2 separate regions of the Homo sapiens genome follow, and region 1 is linked to region 2. Evidence: fine-mapped expression QTL. A gene starts in region 2. The other region holds a variant in brackets. All regions are shown on one strand. Distances are from middle to middle. Region 1 overlaps GLIS1 (GLIS family zinc finger 1). Region 2 holds the start of GLIS1 (GLIS family zinc finger 1).

Region 1 (8,412 bases), 200 kb after region 2:
GTGAACCCCACACGCACATCCATGTTCCAGGTGGCCAGTTTCCACGTGTGCTGTGCTATGCGTGGGGCAGTGTGTCGGTGTGGCTGGTGGGTGGGGGTTAGTGTGTTTGTGAATGTGGCAGGTCTGGGGCTTGGACGTCTTTGGGTATATGTGTGAACATGTGTGTCCTGGCCTGTGTGTTTTTGTGATATGAGTCATGGGGTGTAAACACAGTTTATGTGTATGATGTGTAGTGTGTGTGGGGGGGTGTATACCGTGTGGTATGTGTGTGTGTGGTGTGGTGTGTGTATGTTGGGGGTGTGGTACGTGTGTGTGGGAGGTATGATGTGTATGTATTGGGGGTGTGCTGTGATGTGTGGTATGGTGTGTGTGTGGGGTGTGCATTCATGTGCTGTGGAGTGTGTGTGTGGTATGATATGTGTGGGTGTGTTATGTGGTATATATGTGGGGATATGGTATGTGTGGGTGAATTGGGGTGTGTGTGTTTAGGTGTAGTGTGTGTGTGTGTGTGTGAGGGAGTTTCTGGGTCTTGGTGTGTGTGTGTGTGTGAATCCATGTGTGTGTGTTGGTGTGTGTTGGGGCTGTCTCCGACGTGTGGCTTGGTTGGAGGGAGAGGTGTTCACATCAGAGTGTGTGAGTGTCCACGTTTCTGGGCCTGTGGCTGGTGGCTTGGTGTACATGTGTCAGCCATTCTATGCTGTGTGCTCTCTGCGGAGCCCTGGCCCCTGGCAGAGCCTCTTTCCTCATTCCAGACGATGTCTAGCCACAGCTCTGCACTGGGAGAGCCCCTGGATCCCACCTGTCCACTTGGGCCCAAGAGAAGCTGACTCAGCCCCTCCTGCACCTCCTACTTTCGGGGGTTCCACATGCCCTGGAAGGGTGACTCTCTTGATCCTTGCTGGCCGGCCACCTTTCCAGGAGATGCCTCAACTGCACTGCTGGGGACAGGAACCCATTTCTTGCCCAGACAGGAACTTTTGCCAGAGAAGAGCCCAGCCCAGAGCTGTCAGTGTGTTCCTGGTGAGGAAGGGTCAGGGTGTCTGCAGCCCCCACCCCCTCAGCCTTGAGATCCTCCTCCCAAGGACAGGCCCACCCGCATGGGCTCCCAGAGGAGGTGTATGGTCCCTCTGTCCTGTTCTCCCTTGCCTCACTGTGTGCCCCCAGCCCTCCCTGGCCTGCCAGCTGCTTATGAAGGCCCAGTGAGCAGATGGTCTTGCCTCTCATGGCAGTGCTCGATCATGGCTACCTGGGACCAGAGTGTGCCCAGGGCACAGACCTCGGCACTGGAGGTGAACCCAGGCTCCATCCCATGAGTGAGCGCTGGGACTCTGGCACTTCACCTAAACTCAGTTTCCACCTCTGTAACAATAGGGGTTGCAGGATTAGTGAGATGGTGTTTAGGGAGAGCTTGGCCCAGTCCTAGGCACATGGTCAATGTGATAGCTGCTGTTCTGCTCAGTCCCCGCACATGCCCCACTTTCCATTCATGTATGCAGGTGGCACTGCATCCCCAAACACCAGACCCTCGAGAGCCTCACGGTCCAAATCAAAGAGCCCGGGTCAGTGCCCTCCAGCCTCACCCCCAGGACCCTCCTCCCGTCTGTCCGTTCCATTCTTGCCTCAACCTCCCCACAGAGGACTGGCGAAGCCCCAAACTCTGAGGAGACCCTCAAGGAGCCCCACGGGGGAGCACAGGACAGTAACCTCAGGCCAGCCAGCGGCCCCTCCCAGAGTGCAGGAGCGAGGAGCGGCCCTCAGTGCCCAGCTTGCTGGCCTTTAAAGCTGGCCAAACGCAGGATTATTTGACATGTTGGAGAAGGAGCTGGCATTGCATTTCTCCCATCCACATCATTGTTGTAAAGTAACTTAAAAGTTCGTACAAAAATGAGAAGTTGATCCCTGAATGGCCTGCCAGACTTTTGTAACCCAATATATTTTACCCTTAAACCAGAAATGTGTTTATTTAGAAGCAAGTCACTGGCAAATGCTAAAACTGAAGGCATTTCCTCCCCTGCCCCCGTGCCATGCCCTGTTCCCCCAAACCTCCTCTTCACTCTGTGTCCAGATTCTTAGTTAGAGCATGAGAAACTGAACCCTGCCTCCTTTTTGGGCCATGCCAGCCGCAGGCAGGAAACTTGACATTCATTAGGCACCAGCTATGTGCCAGTTCCTACACTGGGCATATTCTTTTATTTACTTCTACCAGCCGTTTGTGGTGGCCCCATTTTAGAGAAGAGAAAAACGAGGACAGAAATGAGGCGTGACTAGCCCAGGTTCAGGCTCCCGGTGGTGGATCCCCAGCACAAACCTCTGTTTGCGTGACTTGATTTGCAGCACTTTGGTTTGCGGCATGGTGTCACCAACTCACATGTGAAACAGGGCCCTTGGTTCTTCCCCAGGAGCCAGAGGGAGAGAAGAGCCATCACCTAGTGCCAGCGGCACGCCAGGCACTGTGCTGGGGCTCCCCTGCATGCTCTTAGCCCGTCCACAGATGCATAAAAGGCTCTGAGTGTGGCTTGCTGAGGAAGGTGGACCCACCCTGCAACTTGAACGTCTGAGCCAGCCCCCAGCGGATCTTGGGCTTCAGCCCTCCCCCTCCCCAAGCCAGAGCTTGAGGGGTCCCTGGGCTTGGCCCAGAGGCGAGGATGCCACCCCCTGCCTGGCTCCTGGGATGGCTCCCCTCTGTCTTTCATCTCCTGCCCTCTGCTCTGTGAGCGGCACGCAGCAGTAATGGATTGCAGTGGACATTTTTCAATTAGGTTCTGATTTTCCCCTGCCTGTCACTATAAAACTCCAGATGGTCTGGGGCTTCACGGTTCCCGGGGTATTTTCCCCGTTTTTTTAATCTTCTGCTGTAACACACCCCACATGTGGGAATTGGGCCTTTCAAGGCTGTTCTGTGGATCAGCTGGTACTTTCTTCTCCACTGTGCCACCTGGTTTTCCTTTCTGCATGGAGGCATCCACTGTGGGCATCCTCCCTTCCCAGCGTCAGCTCTGGGGCTGGGCCCAGGCCTGGCCTTGCCCCAGGAATGGAACCTGTGACGCCTGGTTTGAAATGACAGTACTAGCTCCTGAGAGAGAACTTGTCTTTTGGTGCTTTAGGTAGGAGTCCCTGAGGCAGTGGCCAGAGTGGTTAGGGACACATATAGACTCATCAGCCAGACCCAAGGTCAGATTCCTGCTCCGTCACTGACTGGCTGTGTGACCTGGAGCCAGTGACATCACCCTTCTGAGCCTCAGTTTCTTATTCTGCAGAGTGGGCTGGGAAGTAGCTTCCTCAGCGGGGAACGTTGTCTGAATTAAATGAAACACACACAGCACTTGGCCTACGGTAGGTGTCAGAGAAAGTGTCACCCAGTCACTACTGTCATTCTGAATTCACCCCAACTTCATCTTCAAATATGTTTTACTGTTTGTGTATTTTGGGGTAAATAAGAAAAACCTAACCACCTATTCTTACATTTTTCAAGATTGTTATACATGCCTGCTTTTCCTTCTCCCCATCCTGGGTACCCCCTGCCCTCAGTATCACCTTCTCTGTTCCCATGGTGTGGGAGCCCTTCCTTCTAGCCAGATCAGTCTGTTGTGTTTTTGGTTATTTGAGCCAGTGTGTCTCAAATCCACCCTCGACAGAAGGTGCC[T/C]GTATCATTCTCTGCATGGACAGATGGCGTCAGAGCGCTGATGCCTCTGCACACAGTGGTTCACAGAGCCCCCACAGTGTGCCCCTTCTTACATCTGAGGTATCTGGTCTCTGACAAGTGAAATGAGCTCACCCTGATTCATCGGGTCGGGAAGCGTGGAGGCCAGCTTTGCACCCAGGCTGATCTGAAGCTGGAATGCATTGGTGTGGGTACGGGGGTTGGAGGGTACAGATGCCACCAAGCCAGCACCAAGGGACCAGATCATGCTGGCCAGAATGCCAGGGTGAGGATCTGTACATGTTGAGGCACTGGGGAACCATGCAGGGTTTGAGCAGGGAGGGACACAGAGCTATGGGCTTAAGTCTTCTTTTCAGATAGCTCGTGGAAATGGGTTGGGAAAGGCAGGAGGGAGGCAGGATGGCACCTGTGCAGTCACCCAGGTAAGTGATGCTGGGGTGTGGATTAGGGCAGTGGGTGGATAAGAAGAGAAGGGGGCAGACCTGGAAGGTGATTACAAGGTGGCATTTCCTGGGCTGGTGACTAGTTGGATGCAGGGCCCAGAGAGGAGGGAACATGTTCCTGGCTCAAGCATCCAGGTAGAAGGTGGGAGGTCAGGGGCCCCATACCCACCCAGCCATCCACCATGAGGGACTGAGAGGCCCCAAGGTGGGCTGGCCATGTGCCAGCAACTCAGGGCCATATGTGCTTGAGGCTTAGGGGCCCATGTCGCACCCTCCTGCACCGGTCCAGCCCAGTGCCTGGACTCACGGTAGGTGCTTAGTAAAGGTAGATGGAAGAAACAGTGACAGCTCAGACCCAGGGCATCAGCCCTGCGTGACCTGGGGTGGTCCAGCCAGCAGAAGTCGCACCAGAGTCCCTCAAGTGAAGAGCCTGTGCCACATCAGTCCTTGCATGGAGTGGCTTCTGTGAAGTCTTTAGAATCAAAAATCCCCAAATTTGCCTGCTGCAGAAGGAACCACTACCCCATGTGTTTGAATGAAGGGAGCCCCCAAAACTCCCATTTCTACTTTCACCTCTCCTCTCCCTGCTTCCCTTCCTTCTCTGCTCAATAGATCCTTAGCTGTTTCCAGAACATATCCCACCTCTTCCAGCCTCCCTGCTTTTGTTCATGCTTTGCCCTCTCCCTGGAATGCTTTTCCTGGCTCTGTGTTTCTAGCCCCTGCCTGGGTGTCAGGGCTGAGCTCCTCTGTGAAGGCTTTTGTAGCTCCCCAGCCTCTGCCAGCCAGAAGCCCCCGGGTCAGCCCCTTCCTAGGGCTCTGAACAAGTTCCAGTGTGTTTGGAGCTATGGGTCTTTGACGCCCTTGGGTCTCAGCTCAGAGCACACTGCCAGGCACACAGAGGGGCAGCTGAGTGAGGCAGGAGGATAAGAACCTGTGTGCTCAAAGAGGAGAGGATGAGTGAGTGACTCGCAGAAGTGCGTGAGTGGAAGGATGGGGGGTGCACAGTAGCAGGGATGGGGTGGGTGGTCAGGTGGGGGTGGAGGGATGGGGTGCACAGCTGGCTTTCAGGCCACAGGGCTTACCTTGTGTTGCAGGCACTTCTTTCTCAGGAGAGATGGCAGTTCTGCCTATGGCATAGCTCAGGCTCAGTGCCCCTGGCACAGGGGGAACAATCTCCCTCTCTGAACCCCCCACATAGAGGCACTCAGCCCTTGCAGTGGGGGTCCAGGGTCTGCTCTGCCAGCCTGTACCCTTGGACACTGGCAGCAGGAAGCAGGTGTCTGTCCAGGACAAATGTACCATAGAGCCTGAGGCGACCGGGATGTCAGGAAGGCCCCGCCCCAGTGGCACTCCCTGTGGTGCAGGCCCCATGGAATCATTACGATGCCCTCGGGTCGTGGTGCCATTACCTGAAGGTAAGTCCTCCCTCCACCTGAGAAACCAAGGTCGAAGCCAGGGACGTGCTAGATGGCTGCATTTCTGGTCTCACAAGCCCCATGCATCCATTCTGCAGCATCTGTGCCCCCACAACCCAATGGTGGGGGTTCCCTCCCTGCAGCCCTCCCAGCCCTACACAGCCTATGGATGGGGGCCCTTCAAGCCACACCCACCCCAAAGGCTACCTCGCACTCATTGGAGGCTGCTCCCGGGACCCAGAGAGCTCCCCCTGGGCTGGGTCTACACCAGGGTCCGTGTGTGTAACCCCTGTGCTGGCTGCACCCTGAGCATCAGCTCCCCATCTGTCAGTGGAGACAGTAATACTTGCCTACTGGGCAGTGAAGAAGATAAGGTGCCACATTTGTGACAGCACCAGGCCCAGCAGAACCAAGCACACAATAGGTGCTGAACTGATGGTCGCTCTCATCCCTCTTTCTGTGCCTCTGTTGTCCCCATCTGTGCAGTTGTTGACTAGGAAGGACCACAGGGACCTTGGCAGCCAGCTGCAGGCAGATCCCATAGGCCCTCAAGGCCCCTGGCGTGTCTGGGATGCTGGTCCTGATGGGGCATGACTCTGGCTCTGCCAGGGGTGCCTGCAGCATCCTCATCCCAGACCAGTCCTGATGGGGCAGTGCCCCTTCGTCTGCTGGTACCTCTGTTTCCACCTGGAGGGACGGGCCACTCTCATCAGGGCATCCCAGCCAGCTGCTCATTATACCCCAGCCTGTGGCTCAGCTCTGGAAAGTTCCAGGGGGCGGGGAGCAGAACAAGGCTGGGCCAACATACATGGGCACAGCACAGGCATCAGGGCACACGCACTTATCGGGGTACCTTTCTGCACACTGGGGTAAGGGGGTGTACTCACAGGGGTGCGTGGACTGCATGCCCAGCAACCCCCATATCATGCTTCTGTCCCACCCTTTGCCCCATGATTGAGATGCCAGCCCTGCTCTCAAGGAACTCTCAAACTCTCAGCCTGGAGGCATGGGGAGAAGGCCATGGCTGTGCAGGGAAAACCTACCCCACAAGCTCATGGGTGTCACAGAGGATGGGGTGGGGAAGTTTGAGGCAGGCTTCTGAGAGAGAGTGCTTAAGCAACAGGAGTAGATGTTTGCTAAAAGAGCAAATAAAGGAAAGGCATTCCAGGCCTAGGGAACAACTGAAGTAAAGGCCTGAGGGCATGGAAATTCCTAACAGAATTCAGGACTGTTCAGACACAGTCTCACTCCTGCAGATCACGCGTGGAGCGTCTGCATGGGAGAGGCAGTTGGGTCCATGTTGGAAGACCATGAACACCAAGCTGCAGATCCTGTGTTTGAAAAACGTATGAATTAGATGGTCAGAGAGTTGGAAGGGAAGGAGTCCCAGGAGGGGGACAGTCCGAATAGAGACAGAGCAACTGTGCTGAGCAGAGGGTTGGCCAAGGCAGGAATACACAGACCTCGGGGAGAAGATGATGTATCGATCATGGTCCACCTTCCAGCACTCTCCCACAGTCAGGAAAATGACGAAGCCTGGAGGAGTTATTGTCCTCTGCTGTAGATACCTCCCTGCCCTGCATGGGCCAGAGGGGAACAAAGGATGCTGAGAGGAAGCCCCACTCTCCAGCCCGGGCTCCCCCATCTCACGTTGGGGTGAACTTGGCACAAGGCCATTGCAGGCGAGCAAGGGAGGTGGCTTGCAGCCTATTTACTGCCCAAACAGGATTTCCTCCTGGTTTGGATGCATGAAAAAGGCACAACATCTGGAAGTAGGAAGCAGAACAGCTTCTAAAACCCAGCTGTGGGTGGCTCGCCTTGGACCCGCCCCAGCAGAGCACGGCCCCAAGTTGTGACTGGGCTTCCAGGGGACAGGCGCAGAGGGAGCTGTCCCGGAACCATCATTGTCTCTCGTGTCTCTTGTGTCTCTCATATCTGTCTGAGCAGCTCTGCCCTGGCCTGTGCTCCATCTGCCACCTCTGCCCTGGATGGGGCGTTGGTGACCCTCCTCTGGAACTGCTACAATTGCCATCTTCCTGTCTCCTCCCCCGGTCCCCACTTGTCACCAGCAGCCAGAGAGGTCTTCCTAGGGCACATATCTGAGCCTGTCCTTTCCCTTCTTTAGGAGAAGTGTCTCCACTTTCCCCAAGGTGGAGTCCAGGCTCACTGGCCCAGCATTTGAGTCCCCGCTATCTGGCCTTTGAGCTCCCTGCAGACTCCTTGCCCAGTAGAGCCCAGCCCACCCCCAGCGTAATGAACCCCACATCAACCACTCAGGGGCCTTCACAGGGAATCTGTGCCTTTTTCATGCTTTGGTGCCTGCCCTTCCTTGGCCTTCAGTGTGCGTCACCCCACTATCTTCTTTGGATCTGTTGGTTGCAGTTCAGGGCTCGGGCAGGGCCAGAGACAGAATGAGGTGAATGCATCAGTGTTGGGGGAATTGCCTGCCTGTGTCTCCACACTGCTACATGTCTGTCTAAGCTCGCTACAGTCATCAAGCCCGTGGAAGCAGCTCGCGGCCCACAGGCTGCCTCAGGCATCTCCTCTGTGTGGCCACAGCCCCTGTGTCTCCCTCTGTGACATCTCAACCACGTCGCTTTATGGTGGTGTGCGTGTGTGCATCTCCCACATGGGCTCTCTACACCTAGAGGGCAGGACCCATGTCTGAGTTCTCTCTGCAGCTTGGCACTCACCGCAGACTGGAGCCAGTCTGTCCCAGTGAACAGCCTCGCACCAGAAATTACTCAATGTGCTGAACAGCCTTGAGCCAAGGCCATGAAAATCAGCCAGGTGGATCACAGGGTCTGAAATGAGCCCACAGTCCTCTCCAGGCACCCAACCAGCTCCTCCCCCTACTCCCCGCAGGTGAGCCCCAGAGAAAGGATGTGAAGAG
Region 2 (9,315 bases):
ACTAAAAAATACAAAGTGGCTGAACCATTTTACATTTCCACCAGCAATGTTTGAGGGTTCCTATTTCTCCACATCCTCACCAACACTCATTTTTTTTTATGATTCCTCATCATTCAACTTGAGACATTCCTTTTATTCAGTTATATCATCCTATTGGATGTGAAGTGATATTTTATTGTGTTTTGTTTTTATTTATTTAAAAAATTTAAAAAAATTTTTGGAGATAGGGTCTCACTATGTTGCCCAGGCTAGAGTGCAGTGGCTATTCACAGACGTGATCATCAGCACTGCAGTCTCGAACTCCTGGCCTCAAGCAATCTTCCTACCTCAGCTTCTCTAGTAGCTCATTCTGGTTATGATTTGCATTTTCCTAATGGCTAATAATGTTGAGCATCTTTTCATGTGCTTGGCCACTTGTATATCTTCTTTGAAGAAATGTCTATTCAACTCCTGTGCCTATTTTTTCGTTGGGTTGTGTTTTTGTTTTTGAGTCGTGTGAGTTCTTTGTATATTCTGGAGGCTAGACCCTTATCAGATATATGATTTGCCTATATTTTCTCCCGTTCTGTAGGTTGTCTCTTCAGTATTTTGATAATGTTCTTTGGTGTACAAAAGTTTTAAATTTTGATGAAGCCTAATTTATTTTTTATTTTATTGCTCATGTTTTTGGTATTGTATCAAAGATCCAGACTGGTGTGGTGGCTCATGACTGTAATCCCAGCACTTTGAGAGGCCAAGATGGGAAGATCACTTGAGCCCAGGATATATGACCAGCCTGGGCAATATAGTGAGACTTTGTCTCTACAAAAAATTTAAAAACTTAGCTGAGCATGGTTGCACACACCTGTTGTCCCACCTACTTGAGAGTGTGTGGTCCCACCTACTTGAGAGGCTGAGGTGGGAGGATCCCTTGAACTCAGGAGGTTGAGACTGCAGTGAGCCCAGATTGCACCATTGTGTTGTAGCAGAGTGAGACTCTGTCAAAAAAAAAAAAAAAAAAAATCCACTGCCAAATCCAAGATCAAGAAGATTTACTCCTAAAAATTATTTTTTAAAAAGGTGTGTACCTCTGTGTTTTCTTCTAAGCATTTCATGGTTTTAGCTCTTACATTTAGGTCATTGGTCCATTGTGAATTACTTTTTGAATATGATGTGAGATGGGATCCAACTTCATTCTTTGGCAGGTGGATATCCAGTTGTCCCAATACCATTTGTTGAAGAGACAATTCTTTCCTCAGTGAGTGGTCTTGGCACTCTTATTGAAAATCAGTTGGCCATAGATGTATGGGAGGCAGAGACGCTCTTGACTGTGGGAACTTTGGGAGGTCACTTAATTTTGAACTTTTATCTTCTCACCTGTAAAATAGGGATGATAACCTCTTTATCCAGAGTTGTCAGGATTAAGTGAGGTCACATATGGAGAGTGTCAGCCATGGTACATGGTAGGTTCCCCATGTTAATTCTTCCCTTGCTGCAAGACACAGAGGCAGGGTAAGCAGTGTAACATCGATCACCTCTCTTCCTTCTCCTTCCTCCTATCTCCTGGACACAGGACACCTTAGACACAGAAATGTCTACTTTTACCTCAACCATTTGCTGAGTGAATGCTTACACCCCTGAACAAAGACAGTGAGGAGAGACGTCTTGATAGGGTGGGGAAGCTCTTAGCTAGAAATGTAGGCAAGCAAATGAATTAGTGGTGAGTCTTTAATAATTCAATCAGCATTCAGTAAATATTTACCTACTTTGTGCAGGAATCTCTTCTAGGTTCTGAAGATAGAAAGGCAAAAAGCTGCCCCTGACCTCACAGAGGTCTCATTCTAGAGGGGGGAGACAGGCTGTTACACAGGCAGTTACAAAACTGTAATAAGTTCTCAGATAGAATAAAGCAGAGGATTGTGAAAGTGTGCAGGGAGAAAATAGCTATAGCCCCCTCGAGGATTCAGGGAAGGCTTGTGGGAAGGTGACACTTGGGCTGGGTATGAAATGATTCATAGGAAGAAGTAGGCAAGGTGAATAAGGGGAGAAAATATTAGCATAGGAGAAATCATATACAGAGCTATGAAGGCATGAATATATGTTCCGGATTCTAGGAGATGAAAACTATTCCAAGGTGCTTGGAACATAGGGTAGGGGTGGGAGCAGGGTAAGAAAATGGTTTGATTTTATTTAGATGGCCATTGGGAGCTATGAGATTTAAACAGGGAAGTGCCATGGTCAGATCTATATTTTTATTTATTTATTTATTTACTTATTTATTTAGAGACAGGGTCTCTCTCTGTCACTTAGCCTGGAGTATGGTGGTATGATCATAGCTCACTGCAGTCTCAAACTCCTAGACTCAAGGGATCCTCCACCTCAGCTTCTTGATTAGCTGATAGTATAGGTGCAGGCCACCATGCCTGACTATTTTTTATTTTATTTTTTGTAGAGACAAGGTCTTGCTATGCTGCCCAGTCTGGTCTCCAATTCCTGGCCTCAAGTGATCCTCCTGTCTTGGCCTCCCAAAGTACTGTGATTACAAGTGGGAGCCACTGTGCCCGGCCAGATCTATACTTTAGAGACTGATAAGGAGACCAGTGTGGAAAATCACTAATTAGGAGAAGGATGAGGATGGAGGCAAAAAGAACTTGGAAGAAATGTAGTAGTGAGGATGGAGAGGAGGAGGATTGTTAGTTAAATTTATGACAAGTCAGATATAGGAGTATGGGAGAGGAGGGGCTGAGGATGACTCAGATTTCTGAACTGGGGGAGTTGGCCATAGGGCCATTCACCCAGTTAGGGACATAGGAGTGAGGAGCAACGTCAGAGATGAAAAAATGATGTTCGATTTTGCAGATGGATCCTGATAGAGATATCCAGTAGACAGACTGTGGGAGGGCAGAAGAGAGTGTGAGTTGTAACACGGGTTAGTGTAAAAAGCAGACATTACTGTCTAGCCTGCTAAAGTGAGAAGCAGGTTACTGTGTTTCACTTTATTTTGTTTTTGACAATTAAAATATTAAGGAGTTTTATTTTAATACCAAAAATATAAAGGAAAAAAATGCAGCACATAATCCCACTGCTCAAATAACCCCTATTGAAAGACAGGGAGGGGCCGGGCACAGTGGTTCATGCCTGTAATCCCAGCACTTTGGGAGGCCAAGGTGGGCGGATCACAAGGTCAGGAGTTCGAGACCAGCCTGGCCAATATGGTGAAACCTTGTCTACTAAAAATACGAAAATTAGTCAGGCATGGTGGTGCGCGCCTGTAGTCCCAGCTGCTCTGGAGGCTAAGGCAGAAGAATCACTTGAGTCTGGGAGGCAGAGGTTGCCGTGAGCTGGGATTGTGCCACTGGACTCCAGCCTGGGCAGACAGAGGAGTGAGACTCTGTCTCAAAAAAGAAAAAGAAAACAAAAAAAAAAAAAAAAGAGAGAGAGAGGGAGGATAATATATACTTAGAAAACACAAATCAGTTCAGACAAGTATAAAAATGAAAAGTGCAGGCCTTCCCTCAGTCCTCCATTCCCTTAACCACTGTTAACAGTTTCTTGTGTTTCCTTTGTGGAAAAAAAAAAAAGCATATACCTACTAGATTCTGAGTATCTCCAAAGGGGTTCTGCCATTTACAGTGTTTAAGAGGTCTGTTTTATTGAGCAGATTAAACTTCTCATCACTTTGCCAGCCTTCACAAACCCACCTATTTTGGTCAGGTGGACCTGTGAGCTCACTGAGGGGAAGGGGAGGGGGCGGGTTCTGTGTTTCTGTGTCCCTAGCTCAGGTATAGGGGCTGGCCCAGGGTAAGTGCTCAAAAGAATAATGGAAAGAGCTGTTTCTTCATCTGGAAATTTGGAGGGCCTTTGCTTTCAGGTCCAGTTGGTTAAATGACTCATTCAGCAAACGTTTTCAGAGTCCCGACTAAATGTGCAGCGCAGTGCTTGTTGTGTGTGTGTGTGTTTTGCAGCGGGGCGGCGGGGGGGGGCATTGTGGGGGGTGGAGGGAGGGCAGAGGACTTGGATCCTGGCCTTACTGAAGAGAAGAGCAGAACTAGAAAGGCCAGAGATCTTCCAACTTCATGCCTTTGGAGGGGGGAAGCTGAGGTCCAGAGTGAGGTTACCATTCGTCTAGAGCCACATGGCTTGTTGGCAGCAGAACCAGCTGTGACTCCACAAGAGTATGTGGTGGTGGGGGGTGCAGGCACTGAGTGAGGCGCAACCCTTGGCCTGTGTGTTATGGGCATGGTTGATTTACACCCTCTCCCTGTGAGCAGCAGAGTGGTTGGTACTGAAGGAACAGCATTGCCAGGAGTCAGGAAGCCTGGATCCCGGGGCTCTGCCACCCTCCACCACATTGACACAGGCCAGTCACGTCCTTTCTCCTCTGAATGGAGGGTGGGTCTAACTAAAACCTCAAAGTCTTTCTTACTATTATTACTCTAATTGTTAGATACTATTTTAAACAAATTATAGGAAATCCAATTTTATGATTTTGAAATTCTAAAATCCTGGTTTTCCAGGATTCTGAGGATGCTGCTTGGGGTCGGTTGTTCTGTGCAGAGTCCTGTGCTATGAACTTGACATGTTGTGTAGTCCAGAAGGGCTCCATATACATTTTCCAGTTTGAGACCAAGGTCAAAGAGACCAGACTTCAAAGGAGTTCGAAACCAGTCAGGCCCCTTGGAGCCAGCCCAGACCACCATCAAACAGTGCACAGGAGGCGCCTAGGTGAAATGCAGAAACCATTTCAGGGCTTGGCTGGATCCTTCGGTAGGCATGGCAGGTAGACCAGGCCTAGGCAAACACTGCCATTTTACACGGGAGGACTCAGGCTCAGAGCGGGGAACTGAGCCATTGCCTGCAGGCTCTGTGAAGCCTTACTGTTCTTTGTCCCGTGCTCTTCCTACACGTTGGGCAGGGCCCCCTGAGACACTGCGTGCTGTCTGTGGGGGAATCCCAGAAGGCAGGACAACAGAGTAGACCCCTAGAGTGGGTCTCAATCCCCAGATCTGTAAGGATCTCCTGGGAGCTCGCTAAAAGCCTAAGTGCTGGGGGCCTATTCCCCAAGACTCAATTGGAATATTTCCTAGTTGGGATCAGGCACCATTTTTTTATCTTTAACTTCAGAGTTTGAGACCTTTTACCCTGGACTCTTTCCGGCGGAAAACACAAAAACAAACGTAAGAAAGTGGGCTGAGAGGCCTGGGTTTGGGTCCCAAATTTGCTGCCCACTAGCTGTGAAATCTCTGCAAATTCTCCAGTGAGAGGGTTGGATTCTGCAAGAAAACTTTTCAAGCACTTTCGCATCTGTCCGCTTCGCGTTAGCAGACAGCGTCGTTCCCATCTGACGGAGGGGAAAACCGACCGGGAGAAGGGAGGATCCTGCCCGGGGCTAGTGGAGAGGCGGGCAGGGAGCCGGGTTCAGCCCGGCACTCCTCACGCCCAGCGCACTCCGCCGACCCCCGAGCCCAGCCTCTCTCGCCGCGGCGCCGCCCCGCCGTCCTGCCCGGCTCGGCCGTCTGAGAACAGCGGGCAGCGCGGGGATCCAGCCGGCCGCCGCCTGTCAAACCCTCTGCTCAGCCCCGCGTCGGGCCCCGCCCAGACCCCCAGGGGGGGATGCCCCGCCCTCGCGCCGCGATTGGCCTGAGCCGGGCGGCCGCGGCCAGCCAGTGGCTGGAGCGGCTGTTGGGCAGACGCGGGCCCGCCCCCGTCCCCCGGGGAACCGCCCCGCAGGACGCGGCGGCGGCGGCGGCGGCTGCGGCGGCTGCGGGGGCTGCTGCGCCAGTGGAGGCGCGCCGAGCCGGGCGCCCAGCGATCTGCAGCTGCCGCTGCGAGGTGAGAGGGGGCGCGGCCCGCGGCCGAGGGAGGGGCGTGTGCGGGGCCCGAGATCCGAGGCTGGCGTCCCGGCGACGCTCGAACCCCGGCAGCTTGGGGATGGCGCAGGGAGCGCGGAGGGGAACGGAGAGTTTGGGGGCCCCTGATGGAAGGGCTGAGGGAGGCTCTGTCGCGGCCCCCATCGCACGCGCGTGTGGCGAGAGCGTGGGACTGTGTGGTTGTGCGCTGCTGAGCGTCTGACCAGCGGCAGTGTGGGTGGCGTGTCCGTCCCCGGGCGTGCCTCGGCGGGTGTGCGGGTGTGTGGCGGCGGCCGCGTGGGCATTGCCCACTGTGCCGGTTTGCGCGCGCGACGGGCTCGATTCCTCCGCTGCGCATAGGAATGTGGGTGTCCCGGCTGCGCGTGATGGGTTCGCGTCGCAGGATTCAGCGCCCAGCTTGGGACTCCTGTTTTCCAGGTTCGGGTGGTCGCGGGTGAGTCTCTGGGGGTTTCCCTCGGGCCTTTGGGTTCGGGTCCCCAGCTTCTGCGCGCAGCTCGGCCCCGGAGAGTCGACGAAGCGCGCAGCCCGTGACCTACCCGGAGCCGTCTCCGGGGCTTCGCCCGAGCCCTGCTCTGGGAATCCTCGTTGCCGCCGGCTCCGTGTTCCACTGGGGGACGCGGAACAGGCGCCTTACCCGCTCCAGGCCTCAGTTTCACCATTCGTGCAAAGGAGGCTGGTTTCGGTGGAGGAGGATTTGGGTGGGACTTCGCGGTAATGCGCCGCGGCGCGGGGGCCTGGGGTCCTCCCCACACCAGGGAAGGGCGAACCGCTCCTGAGCGAGGGGGCTTTTGCGTGGAATCAGGTGGGTTTGACCTCTGATTGGGCTAGGTGTCGTGGTGCTAACCTATGTTAAAGACGCGCAATCCACCGAAGGGGCAGTGACCTGCTCAAACTCGGCCCCGGGACAATACGGGGGCCGCTTTCCGCATTCTAACTGGCTGTGCTGTCTCCCCTCCCCAGGAGCCCGGCGCGACCCCCAGCCGTGCGCCCCGCCCCGGCGCCATGCATTGCGAGGTGGCTGAGGCACACTCGGACAAGAGGCCTAAGGAGGCCCCTGGTGCGCCCGGCCCCGACCGCGGCCCCGCCAGCCTCGGCGCGCACATGGCCTTCAGGGTCACCGTGAGTGGCGGCGGCTGCGGGGACAGGGGCCCGCGGGACCTGCTAGCCCGGCCGCCTGCGCCGCCACCGCGCGCCCACGACCTCCTCCGGCCCCGCAGTCCCCGAGACTACGGTCCATCCAAGGCCGCCGCCGCCGGGAAGGGTGAGTTCGGCCCTGCCAACGTGCCTGGCGGCTCCTGTGGAGATTCGGGCTGCCCGGCGTCGCCACCGCGTGCTCGGGAGAGCTTGGTGGAACTTTCTTCGGAGTTCCTCAGTTTCTCTCTTATTGTTTGGGACTAGCTTGTCAGTGTGAAAGTATGCCTGCTTTGCGAAGCATCTAATTTAAATTCAATTAGCCCCGTTTGGGGAAATGTGTTTATAGAAAGCTCTCAGCTTACATAATTTTGCTTCTGTGTGTTTCTGATAAAGCTTGCATAGAAACTTGTCAAAATTTTATTATACATGAGGGCGAATAGCAACGCATATATTGGTATCTGTTTCTGAGCAGCTCAAGGCATAGTTTGAAGTATTTCAATCTCCTCAGCTGACAAAACCCAGAGGCCTTTAGCAAGACCCCTCTCCTTTTGGGACCTCAGTTTCCCCATCTGTCAAGTGAGGAATTAATTAAACCAGATGATTTCTGGATTCCTGATGGAAAATTTTCTGCATCAGCAATCCAGCCTAGTCACGTCCTAACTTAAACATGGCTTTTCTGTACTTGGTGCTTCGGCAGCCTAGTCTTGGGTCACAAGCTCCTTGGCAAGTCCCTTCGTCCCCCAGTGAAGCTGGCCACGGGAAGGTGGGGGTCCCAGTATGGCTTATGGGCTCAAAGTCGGAGATGGTGCTGGGATTTTCAGGAACATGCTCTTCTCATCACAGTTAATTATTATTGAGTCATTATTTATGAGTTTCGTGCTGACAGATAATTAACCAGGAATTGGAGAAATTGTTAAGATGCTGTGTCCTCGTCCTCCCCCCTTTTTTTTTCCCTTAGGGGAAACCAAGGCTTTGGGGTTTGACTATATCTGCATTTGGAACCTCTTGGTTCTCATTCCAGATGATTCTCAAGGAAGACAAAAACAGTTTGGGTTTTACGGTTATAGGCATCACTTCCTAGCATCAGCCTCACAACTCGGAAGGGGTAGGCAGCCTACTTTTAGAGTTGAGAGCTCCTTGTGGATCAAAAACACCCAACTCCCTGGTTCAGGGATTAGTAAAATGAAATAAACATAAGTAGTTTTTTTCTTTTTTGAAGAAAACACTTGACTTTGTAAGAGAGAACTACTTCTCATCTCCTTGTTTTAGATGCCAGCCTCTTTTTCAAGGGATAGAGATAATATTTTAGAAGGACAGATACAGTGGGGAGGGGCGGGAAATGCCTGCTGAGTGTTATTGCTGGAATACACACATATGAGGTCTCTTTTACCAGAGAGGAGCGCTGCGCAGCGAGACATGAGTAATGTTTGCTGCCGGGAGCTCCCTGGCTTGCCCCGCTCCATACACAATCCTCCCTTAAATAGATACCCTCCTGCAACGTTCTGTGTTTAAAAAAATCATGGCTGTCCTCTGAAGATCGAGTTCTCTGCAGACCTAGCAAACAGCTCTCCCGAACATAATCTTTGTTCCACGCTATGGTGAGACCTTTCACCTGGGGGCTTTGTGTACGATCTTCCTACTTCCATTCCCCCTAACCCCAGTTATTTTTACGCACGCCCCCAAACATGTCCAAAATAAAAGATCTTTAAGTCAGGATTCCATTTGGAAAGGGCAGAGGAGAATAAAGGGATGGGAGGAAGAGCCTCTTTCTTTGTACCTTAAGCTGGTCTCTCTGGTGAAGCTTTTTTCCAAGAGGTTTCACAACTTTTCTTCATAGCCTCCCAGTGAGGCTGTTGTGGTGGGATGTATCCCACTCATTTGAAGGGTGAGGAAACTGAGGCCTGAAGGTGGGAAAGTGTTTGGTATGTGTAGGGCAGTGGTTAGGGAAGCCACAGCTCTGGCCTAACCTGGCCTAGGGAGAAAGGGAAGGCTCAGGGTCCTGGGCTTGGAGAGGTTTCCCTGCTGGCCTCTGTGTTGCTATAGGCAAGCTTTTCCTCACAGTGCAGTCACCAAGTGGCCCGAGACAAACCCAGCTTTCCCCCAGTTCTTCAGCGTCCTTAAAAATGCTGCGAGGAAACGGCACCTTCTTACTGCCCCTACTCCCACCGAAATAGTCCCAGACCATGTAACCCTTTGAATATTTGGTGTCTAGCTCCAAGTTCTCAGGCTTATTGGAAACAGACAGAAATACCAATTGAAAAATATGTATTGACTGTGCTGGGAATTGTGAGACCCCACCATCTATGATCTGTGGCACTTGGGGGAATCGATT

Evidence for each region. PIP is the estimated chance that this variant, and not a neighbour inherited with it, causes the effect.
Region 1: its variant is fine-mapped to the expression of GLIS1 in cerebellum (GTEx, PIP above 0.99).

The regions. Positions count from the first base shown.
Region 1 is chr1:53,531,382-53,539,793 of GRCh38, reverse strand. The region is part of intron 4 of GLIS1 (GLIS family zinc finger 1); the gene reads left to right. Among named protein-coding and RNA genes, the nearest start is that of DMRTB1, 76 kb to the right of the region's middle. RefSeq lists an enhancer at 1-400. The variant T/C (reference allele first, on the strand shown) is at 3,644.
Region 2 is chr1:53,735,601-53,744,915 of GRCh38, reverse strand. GLIS1 (GLIS family zinc finger 1) reads left to right here and starts at 5,752. Exons shown (of 11, transcript NM_001367484.1): 1 at 5,752-5,811; 2 at 6,810-7,110. The coding sequence starts at 6,852. RefSeq lists silencers at 5,403-5,752, 5,763-5,932 and an enhancer at 5,618-6,336.